4 separate regions of the Homo sapiens genome follow, and regions 1, 2 and 4 are each linked to region 3. Evidence: fine-mapped expression QTL. A gene starts in region 3. Each other region holds a variant in brackets. All regions are shown on one strand. Distances are from middle to middle.

Region 1 (2,692 bases), 49 kb after region 3:
AACACAAAGTGATAAGCAAGGAGCTATATGGTGCCAGGAGAATACAGATAAGCAGGAAATTAATTCTGCCTCAGGGATGGGAATGAGAGGGCACTACACAGAGGAAATGAGAAGTGATGAGTAAGGTGAGTCCTAAAGTATAAGTAGGACACAAGCAAAGGAAAGGGGATGGGAAAGAGAAATATCATATTAGGCAGCAGCAAGAGGCCTGGAGGCAAGAAAATACAGGGCTTGTTACAGAAGGAATTGAGGGATGTTGCTGGAGCAACCAGAAGGTGCTACTGCGGGCCTGGAAAATAAGGCCAGGCAGTCAGACTGGGACCAGATTTTGAAGAACCTTTTGTGCCTGGAATTTGGATGTTGCTGGCAATGGAGATCCATGGAGAGTTTTGAGCACCATGGTAACATGATTAGCTCAGATGTGTATGCAGACTGGGAGTTGAAGTGAAGCAAAGACTGTGATTTAGAAGAGCAGTTTATAATAATACAGGAAAGAATAAAGGATGAGGGTCTAGTCTAGAAAGTAAACAATGGATATGAAGATTGCTAAAGCAGAATCTAAAGGAAATAAATGGTGGCTGATTAGATGGAACCAGGGAGCCAAGGACGACCTTGTGATTTCCAACTTGGGCAATAGAATGAATGTTGATTTTCTTAACCAATATTGGCAATTTAAGATGAGGAGCATTTTGGTAATGGTGTCTAGTTATTGTTGCTTTTTTTTGACATATTTTATTATCAAATATCTCTTAAAAATTTCTAAGTTGTTAATGTAAGTTCTAATTTGTAGGGTCTAACTTTTTCCCCAATATAACATTTTCTTTTTAATCAAAATACTTCTAGAAACTGATAATTCAATTGATCAGACTTTTATTGAGTATCTACCATCTATTTAACTGCAACAGCTATTCAATCTTTAGAAGAAACAAAGGCAATTGTCATAGCTGAGAATCCTTAGCTGTTCTCTGGCCAACTTGTGATTTTAAAGTAATATTACAATACTTACTCAATGTCTACTTACTAAATACAAAGTCCCTCCTATGTTCTTTGGACTGCACAACTGGTATTTCTCATAATGTCAACTACTTGAAGAAGACTAATTAATTCTTCTTTAGACTACTCATTTTTATGTTCAGAGGATTTTCTTTTCAAACTTACCTAAGAATTTAGCTCCAGTAATTTATTTTTCCCATAGTTATTGGAGTAATCCTGGTTTTGCAA[A/G]CTAGGGTCAACATATAACAAAAACTGGACTTTAGAGACTAGAGGAAAAATTCTGACAATGAGAAAAAGGCACTTCCTTTAATCCTCTACTTTCTGATTTTTGAACTATTTATGGATACTCTGATCTAAGGAAACATTTATTGCAAACATGCAGACTGTATTGATTCAGGAGCCAAACAAAGCAGCATTTGGTGAATAAGATATCTTGTTAACAAGATATCACAGTTCTGTCAAGTGAGCCCAGGCACAGGATTTGAAGATGGAAAAGACTATGTTTGGATGATACAATTTAGGATCATTGCTGATTTATTAAAAAGGGTCCTTTCATGTTCCACAGGTGGAAGAAAGCTAAAGCACAGGCTTCTTGTTTGTGCTGGGTGGCTGCTAACATATGCCATCAGAGCAGGTGGACTGGCAGGATCAGAGACAGACCAGGGGAAGGCAGTGGCAGGCCAGTGTGCCCTTCCCTCCCCAGGAATTTGAAAAATTTTACTTTGATGACCTCTAACTATGACTATAGTCCTTGTCTCTTCCAAATGTGGGGATACTTTTTTAGCTTCTGTGTGTGTGCGTGTGTGGGATAAGGGTCAGTAGTCATTCTTTCTTTTCTGACCTATATGGTAAACAGAACAACAGTGATATTTATTGCATTCTTGGACTGACAATCCATGAGGTTCAGAGAAAAAAAGCTAAGGTCTTAGAACATTTTTGAAAAGTTTTATTGACATATAGTTAATATATCATATAGTTCATTCACTTAAAGTATACAATTTAATGGCTTGTAGTATACTGACAGATATGTACAACCATTACCACCTTCAATTTTAGAACACTTTGACCACATCAAAATACAATATGTATCCTTTAGCTATCAGCACCTTGTTCTGTCTACTCCCATCTCCCAGTCCCTAAGCAACCACTATTCTACTTTCTGACTCTATAAATGTGTCTATTCTGGACATTTCATATAAATGGCATCATATAATATGTAGTCTTTTGTAACTGGCTTATTTCACTTAATACATTTTCAAGGTTGAGCTGTGTTGTGGCATGTATCAGTATTTAATTCCTTTTTATAGCTGATTATTATTACATTGTATGATTCTGCCACATTTTGTTTAGCCATTCACCAGGTAACACACAATTGGGTGGTTTCAACTTTTTGCCTGATACAAATAATGCTACTATCACATTTGTGAACAAATTTCTGTGTGGACATTTGTTTTTCATTTCTCTAGGGTGTATACCTAGGAGTGGAATTGCTGGATCATATCTTTCTTTAACTATTTGAGAAAATGCCAAAGTTTTCCAAAGCAGCTGCAATATTTTACATTTCCACTAACAATTTATAAGCATTCCAATTTCTCCACATTCTCTGCAGCACTTGCTCTAATCTGACTTTTGGATTATAGCCATTCTAGTGGATATGAAGAAGTTATCTTATTGAGGTTTTGATTTGTATTTCCCTAAT
Region 2 (2,692 bases), 26 kb after region 3:
TACCATTCTTCATAATGTAAGTCAAGGGAAAGGCAATGACGTGGACCCAGCAGGACTTGTTCAAGTCTTACTTTCCTTCTCTGAGACCAGTAAGTGCTATGTGGGGTTATCCTCTCGAGAATGGAAGTCAGAGTGCTAACTATTTTCATCCTATTCTGTAGCAAGCAACACCCAGCATCATTATGAATTTCTCATAGGGAGAGCATTCCAGGGACCAGTCCTGGTGCTTTGATTGGGAAGGATAAAATCTTTTTGCCCTGAATATTTTAGTTATGTTACTGTAGTAGTTCTTTCCATTTTGTAAGAACAGTTACCACCATAGAGTTTCAGGAGGCACACTTGAAAGGAATTAAGAGACTCAAAGGAGCATTGAACAAGTCACTAATGATGACCGCAAAATCACTACTACTGAATCATAACGCCTTTCATTAATGACAAAGGCATTTAATTGTACTGTTCACTTGTCTATCCTTCAGTTCTGAGTCTTGGTTTGAGTAAGAATGTGTATTGCTCTGAGCAGACTTTCTTATGTATTCATAAGGCAAAATCTCACATTTCAATAAGCATAAATATTTCTTTGGTGCCAGATTAGTGTTAAACTACATTTTCTTCTGTTGCTGGTATCAAGCATATCTGGCTAAACATGACCTGAAACCAACAGCATTACCTTATCAATATATAAACTCAGAGCAGAAATAAATTCTGCACGTTAGTTAAAGCATGGCATCAAATCCTTTTTTTTTTTTTTTTTTTTTTTTTTTTTTTTTTTTTTTTTTTTTGAGATAGAGTCTCGCTCTGTTGGGTAGTGGTGCAATCTCTGCTCACTGCAACTTCTGCCTCCTGGATTCAAGTGATTCTCCTGCCTCAGCCTCCCAAGTAGCTGGGATTATAGGCACCCACCACCATGCCTGGCTAATTTTTGTATATTTAGTAGAGACGGGGTTTCTCACCATGTTGGCCAGGTGACCAGGCTGGTCTTGAATTCCTGACCTCAAATTATCTGCCTGCTTTGGCCTCCCAAAGTGCTGGGATTACAGGCGTGAGCCACTGGGCCCAGGCGGCATCAAATCTTTGAGGTGTTCACAGCATAGCTGGGAAGGGTTTGCCATGCTTCCATGGCTGCATCATCCTGGTTGAGAATTGCTTTGTAAAAGAAGGAGGTGTATGCTGTTTTCTCCCCAGGAGCCTACAGCTCACTGGTGTTTATTATTTTTCAAGGTTGGTTGTAGATTTTGTATTTTTTACAT[T/G]AGAAAATAGGTATTAAACTCCTCTACCAAATTGATGCTAAGTCCTTATTAAGTATGAACTATTTGAAGTGCACAATGACCAATAATTGGCTATCTCTACATTAATAAAATACATATGGCCTTTAGATAAGTGTACATAGATGTTACTAGCAGGGAGATTAATGAACATTGAATGAACTTTGAAATAAGAGGCTCTGGAACACTTTTTCCTTTTGAGGCAGGTGAACTTCTAAAATTGATCAGGCTTGCAGATGAAAATATTTTATATCGCTTATTCTCAAATTCTTCTTTTAAGTAACAAACATTGCTCATTGAACTTTTCCATAAAACTGAATTTATAAATCAGATAAGAGTAAAGCTATTCTGGTGGAGAGAAGAGAGCACTGGAAAAAAAAAAATAAAAGCCGTGGTTCCACCATTCTGTCTCCAACACCTTAAGCCTTGCCATGGAGTCTGGAAACTTCTAAGTGAACACTTTGGAAACCACAATTTTAGATCCAAACATAAAATCCTGTCAAAGACTTTGATATATAAAGGAACAAAAGTGATACTCTTGTGGCAGTCAATTATATGGGGAAAATGTAAACATGACAAAATAAAGCTGTAACCTCAAGTGAATCATTTGAACAGTGTTGGCATTGGAGAGGCCGCCCTAACTCAGCTTCCAAAACTTACTTGATCTGAAGGTTTATCTCGAGGGCTTGCTAAAAAAAAAGCCGGGGGGTGGGGGGTTTCTGGCCCTCACTCTCCCCGATATAAGACTCCTGAAATCATTTTCTTTTTCTTCATAAATATACCCCAAGTGATCAGTCAACTTTGGGAAAACATTGGATCAGATGCTCTTTACTTTCAGCACTAACGTTTTGATGATTCCATTCAATTCCTTGAGTTTTTCCCTAACCTGTGGGACAGGAACATTTTTCCTCAAATTAGTAAGGGTAGAGCAGCTCTGAAAAGCAGGAATTGAAACATGATGGAGTAATGGCAGTTACACAAAGGTGTCTCATTCTCAGAGAACTTGCCCAGACAGCTGTCAGGAGACTTTTAGAAAGTGGCAAAAACTAGGGTGTACAATAGAAGGCAGTGCTTGGAGTTCAGCAAAAGCTATTAAAGTGTTTCATGAGTTTTTTTAGGGTAAAATAATTTCTGAATAATAACATACATATCTCTGCATCTTTCCAGGCCTGGTCTATCTTGGGGTACCAGAGGGCATCATATAACTTCAGACACCCAACTTCCACGGTTCTCTTAGACCCCCTACTGGAAACATGTTAAAGTCCCTAGGGATGTTTCAAACATACTCATGCATCTGTTGAGTACATAATAGGAGGTGATTTCATGTTCTCCCCTTCAGCTCTGTTTTCCCCTGGATGTCTTCCTCTCATAAAGCTGTGTAAGGGTGCCTTTTAAGAGAATGTACCATTTGCATCAAAGGTTCTGCTATT
Region 3 (2,692 bases):
CAATCCCACCTCTTGTGAGGAGCAGGTCTGCCATTCTGCTTGTCAGTTCTCACCTTCCCCTCCTCCACGGCAAAGAGTCCCTTTCACACCCTTCTGAGTGTGCGGGTGCGCCCAGTTTTACAAGTCCTCTGTCCTGCCAGGGTAGTGGGAGAAGCACGCGATGGGGCTAGCGCCCAGTCCTGCGGGGGCAGGCGCCAAGCTCCCGGGAGTCCGCAAGTCGCTTCCTATATTGGCAAGCTTCAAATGAGACATTAGAATCTCCGGCAACCTTCCTTCAAACCTGAACCGGGGAAGAGAATAAGCCGCCCTATGGCCAAGGCGCAATTGCGTACCCGTGTGTACAGGTCCATGCCCTGTCCCCTACACTCTAATTTTCTCAAAGAAAATTGTTTTGCCAAAAGTAACCCTGAGAAATGCAGACGCTCCAAACGCCCTCTCCACTTCGGATGAAGCCAGCATCTAGTAGGGTCTCCGGCCCTCAAGAAGGTGAGGCAAAGAGATGAATTGTCAGACAGCTGCTTTTAAAAGTGGATTGAGGAAGATGGGATGGGGAGGAGAGGAACCAGCATTATCTCCACCTCAGTAAATTGCTTACATTTCTGCTCAATATTTATGCATTTCGGGTGACAGTCCTGCAGGCTGGGGATGAAAAAGTCCACAAGGAGGAAATCCAAAGTTTGAAGTTGATATTCTCTGTGTCCTGAGCCAAGGTCTGATCTTGAACTCGGATCAAATAGGCGGGTTCTAGGCCTTCTGCAACAGGGCGGGGACAACAAGAGCTCCTTTTCCCCTTTAAAACATGACTGCTGGGAACTCTTGGAAGGATGTGTGTGTGTGTGTGTGTGTGTGTGCGCGCGCGCGCGCGTGTGTGTGTTTTGTGGGGAGGTAAATGCCCCCTCCTCCTGCCTCCCCGCTCTCTATCCCCCCACCCCTTTGTAATGTTTGTCCTGCTTGCCCATCACCAGGGGGTTGAGAGGAGTATGACAGGTCTTTGTTGTCTGAATAAAAATCCGTGGCAGCTCCGGGGAGAGAACTCCTCCTACTAAATTATCAAAAATGGGCTGGCTTTAGTCTCTTAACAAATTGGACACAGCTCAGGCAGGAGCAGTCCCCAACCCAATCTACAGGCACTGGGAACTTGCAAGCAGCCAGGGAACGCTGAAAATAGCACGTCTTTTTCTTTCTTTGTGTTCAAAACTATTTTCTTTCTTCACCAGATTTTGTTTTCCTCCCCCCGCTGCAGTTGTTTCCCATTAGTAACTCGATCTCTCAGAGCAGTAAGATTCGCCTTCTACGCCTCTTTTTCCCTCCGCCCGAATTGTTTGTTTTCTGCACATCTCCTTCAGGGAGCCGCTGAGGCTTCCCCCCAACTCTTCCCAGTTCTTTTTGCTTCCCCTCGGCCCCCCAAGCAGACCGATTTCCACTCCATCTGTTTCTTCTCCTCCTTTCTCTCCCTCTTTCCCTCCATCCTCGAGCGTCTCTGCGCTCCTACAGGGCAGCCCTCTCTGGTCCCTTGCCTCCTTCACTCGGATGAGCTGAAAGCCCCGGGCGTGTGTATATGGAAATAGTGGGGTGCCGAGCAGAAGACAACTCGTGTCCTTTCCGCCCCCCAGCCATGCTCTTTCACGGGATCTCCGGAGGCCACATCCAAGGCATCATGGAGGAGATGGAGCGCAGATCCAAGACTGAGGCCCGTCTGGCCAAAGGCGCCCAGCTCAACGGCCGCGACGCGGTAAGGAAGGGCTCCGCCGCGGCGGTAGCCGGGCACCCCTGCGCCCTCTGTTAAACCAAGCCGACTCCCTGGCCGGTGGAGAACCGGAGCGGCGGGTCGTAGAGACGTCCGCTTGAGGGTGGCGGGTGAGTTTTCTCCCGTCCACCTATGCCTACAGGGCTAAGAAACGGTCGTTTTTCTGAATCGAAATGTCTGCAGCTGGCTATCCTCCGTCGCAGCTGATTCCGAAAGAGCAGGGAGAGGAACTGGGAGGAGGTGGGATGGGGGGTGGTGGCATTCTCTTCTACAGACCTCAAGGTTCCCTTGATTCCGGGGCAGGCGTCTCCCCGGCGAGGATCCGCAGCTCCGAGGGCAAGCTGGGCATAAGCAATAGGAGGACGGCGCGCTGCCGAGGCGTCCGAGCCAAGCAGGAGCCCAGGTGGCCTTAGTCTCTGGGCCTGATGACCGGACCTGTGGAGTAGATTCCGACGCGACTGGGTCATTTCCAGTTCTCTAGACGCTCGGGGCTTGGGACCCCTAACCGAGAGAATCTCAGGGTTTCTGGCATCCCGACTCAGTCCCTCTAAGGAGACAGCACTACGTTTAGCGCCAGGACCCGGCGGGTGTCATGTGTAGGGGGAAATCAAATAAAACATACGGAGGAGCGCGGCACCCAGTCGAAACGCATGAACTTTATAACCAACCCTTAAACAAGCTAATCAACCACCACTGTTTCTACTATCCATAATAATAAAGTCATGTCCTCTTAATAAAGAAAACTAATTACTTATCTAAGCGCTTCCCTTTCCAGATTACTAACGGGGGGGGGGGGGGACTACAGAAGTCTCCGGAAATTATTTCGGCCAAACATAGCTGTGTAGATCCTTTGGTACCACAGTAGGACTTGTAGCCCAAACTAATCAGGAGACTGCTCTAGCCCTTATCAGCTGGGTTTTGGGTCCGGCCAAGTAGCCCAACTGG
Region 4 (2,692 bases), 180 kb after region 3:
CCTGCTATATACATTTTAAAATAGAGAAATTATAATGAATAACAATCTCATTGAAAACAGCAAGCAAAATGATAAAAATATTACAAACTTTATTTAAAGAGAATATGTAAGACGTAGAGAAGAAATTTACTGGGGGACATGAAAGAAACTTCAAGTGAGTAAAGAATAAAATCTTGCTTTGATTATGAAGGTTCTATATTGTAAAAATGTCAGATTCTCTTTAATTATAGACTCAAGGGAGTCTCTATTTAAATATTTACATGATTTTTAAAATATCTCTTAGCATTTTTAATTCCTGTACGTTATTGTCATATGCATATACTATAGTCAGGCTTCTATTAATAAAAGCTTTGATGTTGTTACCTTTTTTAGCTACCACTAATAATTTCGGCAATAAATATGCTTGTACATGCTGGAAAAATCATGAAAGTAAATCCACAGACCAAATTGCCAGAAGTGGGATTACTGGATCAAACATTATGTCATTTTTAATGTTGATGAGGTTGTAAAGAGCTGCCTAAGAATGTCTTTACTTCACATTTTTTCTAGAACTGGGTGACATCAGTTTTTAAAAATATTTCTGATGTGTGAAAAATTATATATATTAGGTTTTTAATTGTTAATATCTGATATTATGAGAGAAGGGAGTTTTTTTCCTTATGCTTACTCATTGTCTTAGTCTTTGGGCTGCTATAACACAACACCGTAGACTGACTATGTTTATAAACAACAGAAGTTCATTTCTCAGTTCTAGAGGCAGGATAGTCCATGATCAAAGTGCCAGCAGATGTGATGTCTGATGAGGACCTGTTTCCTGGTTCACAGATGGTGACTTCTTGCTGTGTCCTCAGATGTAGAAGAGGTGAATGAGCTTCCTTGGGCTATTTTATAAAGGCACTAATCCCATTCATGAAGGCTCCACCCTCATGACTTAATCACTTCCCAAAGGCCCCACCTCCTAATATCATCATTTTGGGGGTTAGGATTTCAACATATGAATTTTGTCGGAATACAAATATTCAAGCCATAACATTGATCATAGGTATTTTTTTCTAAACTGCTTATGTCCTATTTTTGTTTATTTGATTGCTTCTCACTTTCTCATTGGTTTATGTGATCTCTTTATGAGTTATGAAAACTATCTCTCTGCAATTATCCTTGCAAATCAGGTTATGATTTTCCAGTGTGTATAAAGAAATTACATATTTATTTTCTATATGAGTTTGAGGCTCTGGGTACTTCTCAGAAATATCTAAGTATTTAAATATCCAACCCTTTATATCAATCAGGACTCTGAAAAAAAAATCACCTTTCATGAGGCTTTTCCTAATCACCTATCTAAAATAGGTAGTATATACTCCAGTAGGTAAACAAGGAAACTGAGTGTCAG[G/A]AAGGATAAATATCTGACTCAAGGTCACACAGCTAGTAGGTAAGAGAACCTGGAGCCAGAATTTAAGTTCAACATTGTCTGACTTCAAAGCCAATATTGCTATATTATCCTGTCCCATCCTGGCCTTCTCCATCTCACCTGGATAGAAATATAAAATTTTAGGTTTGGAAGAGATTTTTCCATACAGGGTCTTAAAAGATAGATCACGAGGGACATACCGATTCTTGGTGATAGATATTTCATGCTCTTCAGTTTAACCGACAGTTACCTCTATTAGAGAAGTTCTCAGAATTATTTGTGTGATTATCTATATGATGTATAGAATCTGTTACTTTTACATGCATTAAGATACTCATTTTAGTACCCTTCCCAGATGTTAAACATTATTATATGCAATTATTATTATTTGCATTAAGAAGGTTATAATTCCTAGCTGGATTTAATAATTAATTCCCATAAGTATAGTATTTATTATTCAGAACATTATGTAGAAGCAGAACCATCACTTTCAGTAATTAAGAGTTTCTATGAAACTCTTTTGGAATGAATTTTCAGATTTAGTAAAAACAAAAGGCTGATAAATGGCATATTCCTGCTAAATGTCATGAAAACAAAATATATGCTTTCTGTCAGTAAATCAAAATTACTGGCAGCTCAAGAAGAATGCATAATCAGAAGAGCTGGTAACATAATGTTAACTAATTCTTCATATTCGAGTTATTTAAGATGAATTATTAATCTTTACTGACCATAGAAATGATACTATTAGAATTGAAAGGTTGAGGCTTAAAGGTTCTACTTAGCAGGTCTAATTTATGTTCCCATAATTTAACAGTTAATTGTTGAGTATGGATGAGCATGTTATAACCCTGTATTAGCTCCTATTTTGGATAAAATCATGTGAGAATGAGGATTTGCTTACTTAGGAAAAGGCAAATTATATTTACTGCTGTTACTCATCCAATGTCAGTTTTAAATTCCTTCCTTCAAATTATTAGGATATAGTTTTTTTGGGTTTCACAGGTTATTATGACATATAAGTTTCCTGCATTATTATTCAACAAATATTTATGAACCCCTAAACACTGAAGTAAATGTTGAAGAGAATGTGGTTGATGAAGAAGACATAGTCCTTGCTCTTGAAGGGAGTGGGAGAGAGCTAATATAACCTGAATGTTATCTGCCATCTCAGTTTCTTGTTCTGCACCCCTAAAATTAATCTGTCCTTTCCCTTCACTATCTGGATACAGAATTCAGAATCTTTTCACATTCTCCACACAGGAGCAACTTTCACAAAAGTGC

What was found. PIP is the estimated chance that this variant, and not a neighbour inherited with it, causes the effect.
Region 1: its variant is the best candidate, but not a certain one, in a credible set for the expression of LHX9 in liver (GTEx, PIP 0.75).
Region 2: its variant is the best candidate, but not a certain one, in a credible set for the expression of LHX9 in lung (TOPMed, PIP 0.60).
Region 4: its variant is the best candidate, but not a certain one, in a credible set for the expression of LHX9 in lung (TOPMed, PIP 0.51).

The regions. Positions count from the first base shown.
Region 1 is chr1:197,965,564-197,968,255 of GRCh38, forward strand. No RefSeq gene overlaps it. Among named protein-coding and RNA genes, the nearest start is that of LHX9, 50 kb to the left of the region's middle. The variant A/G (reference allele first, on the strand shown) is at 1,222.
Region 2 is chr1:197,941,823-197,944,514 of GRCh38, forward strand. No RefSeq gene overlaps it. Among named protein-coding and RNA genes, the nearest start is that of LHX9, 26 kb to the left of the region's middle. The variant T/G (reference allele first, on the strand shown) is at 1,248.
Region 3 is chr1:197,916,266-197,918,957 of GRCh38, forward strand. It overlaps LHX9 (LIM homeobox 9), which reads left to right and starts at 1,107. Exons shown (of 5, transcript NM_020204.3): 1 at 1,107-1,732. The coding sequence starts at 1,559. RefSeq lists an enhancer at 1,678-2,404.
Region 4 is chr1:198,092,993-198,095,684 of GRCh38, forward strand. No RefSeq gene overlaps it. Among named protein-coding and RNA genes, the nearest start is that of NEK7, 63 kb to the right of the region's middle. The variant G/A (reference allele first, on the strand shown) is at 1,391.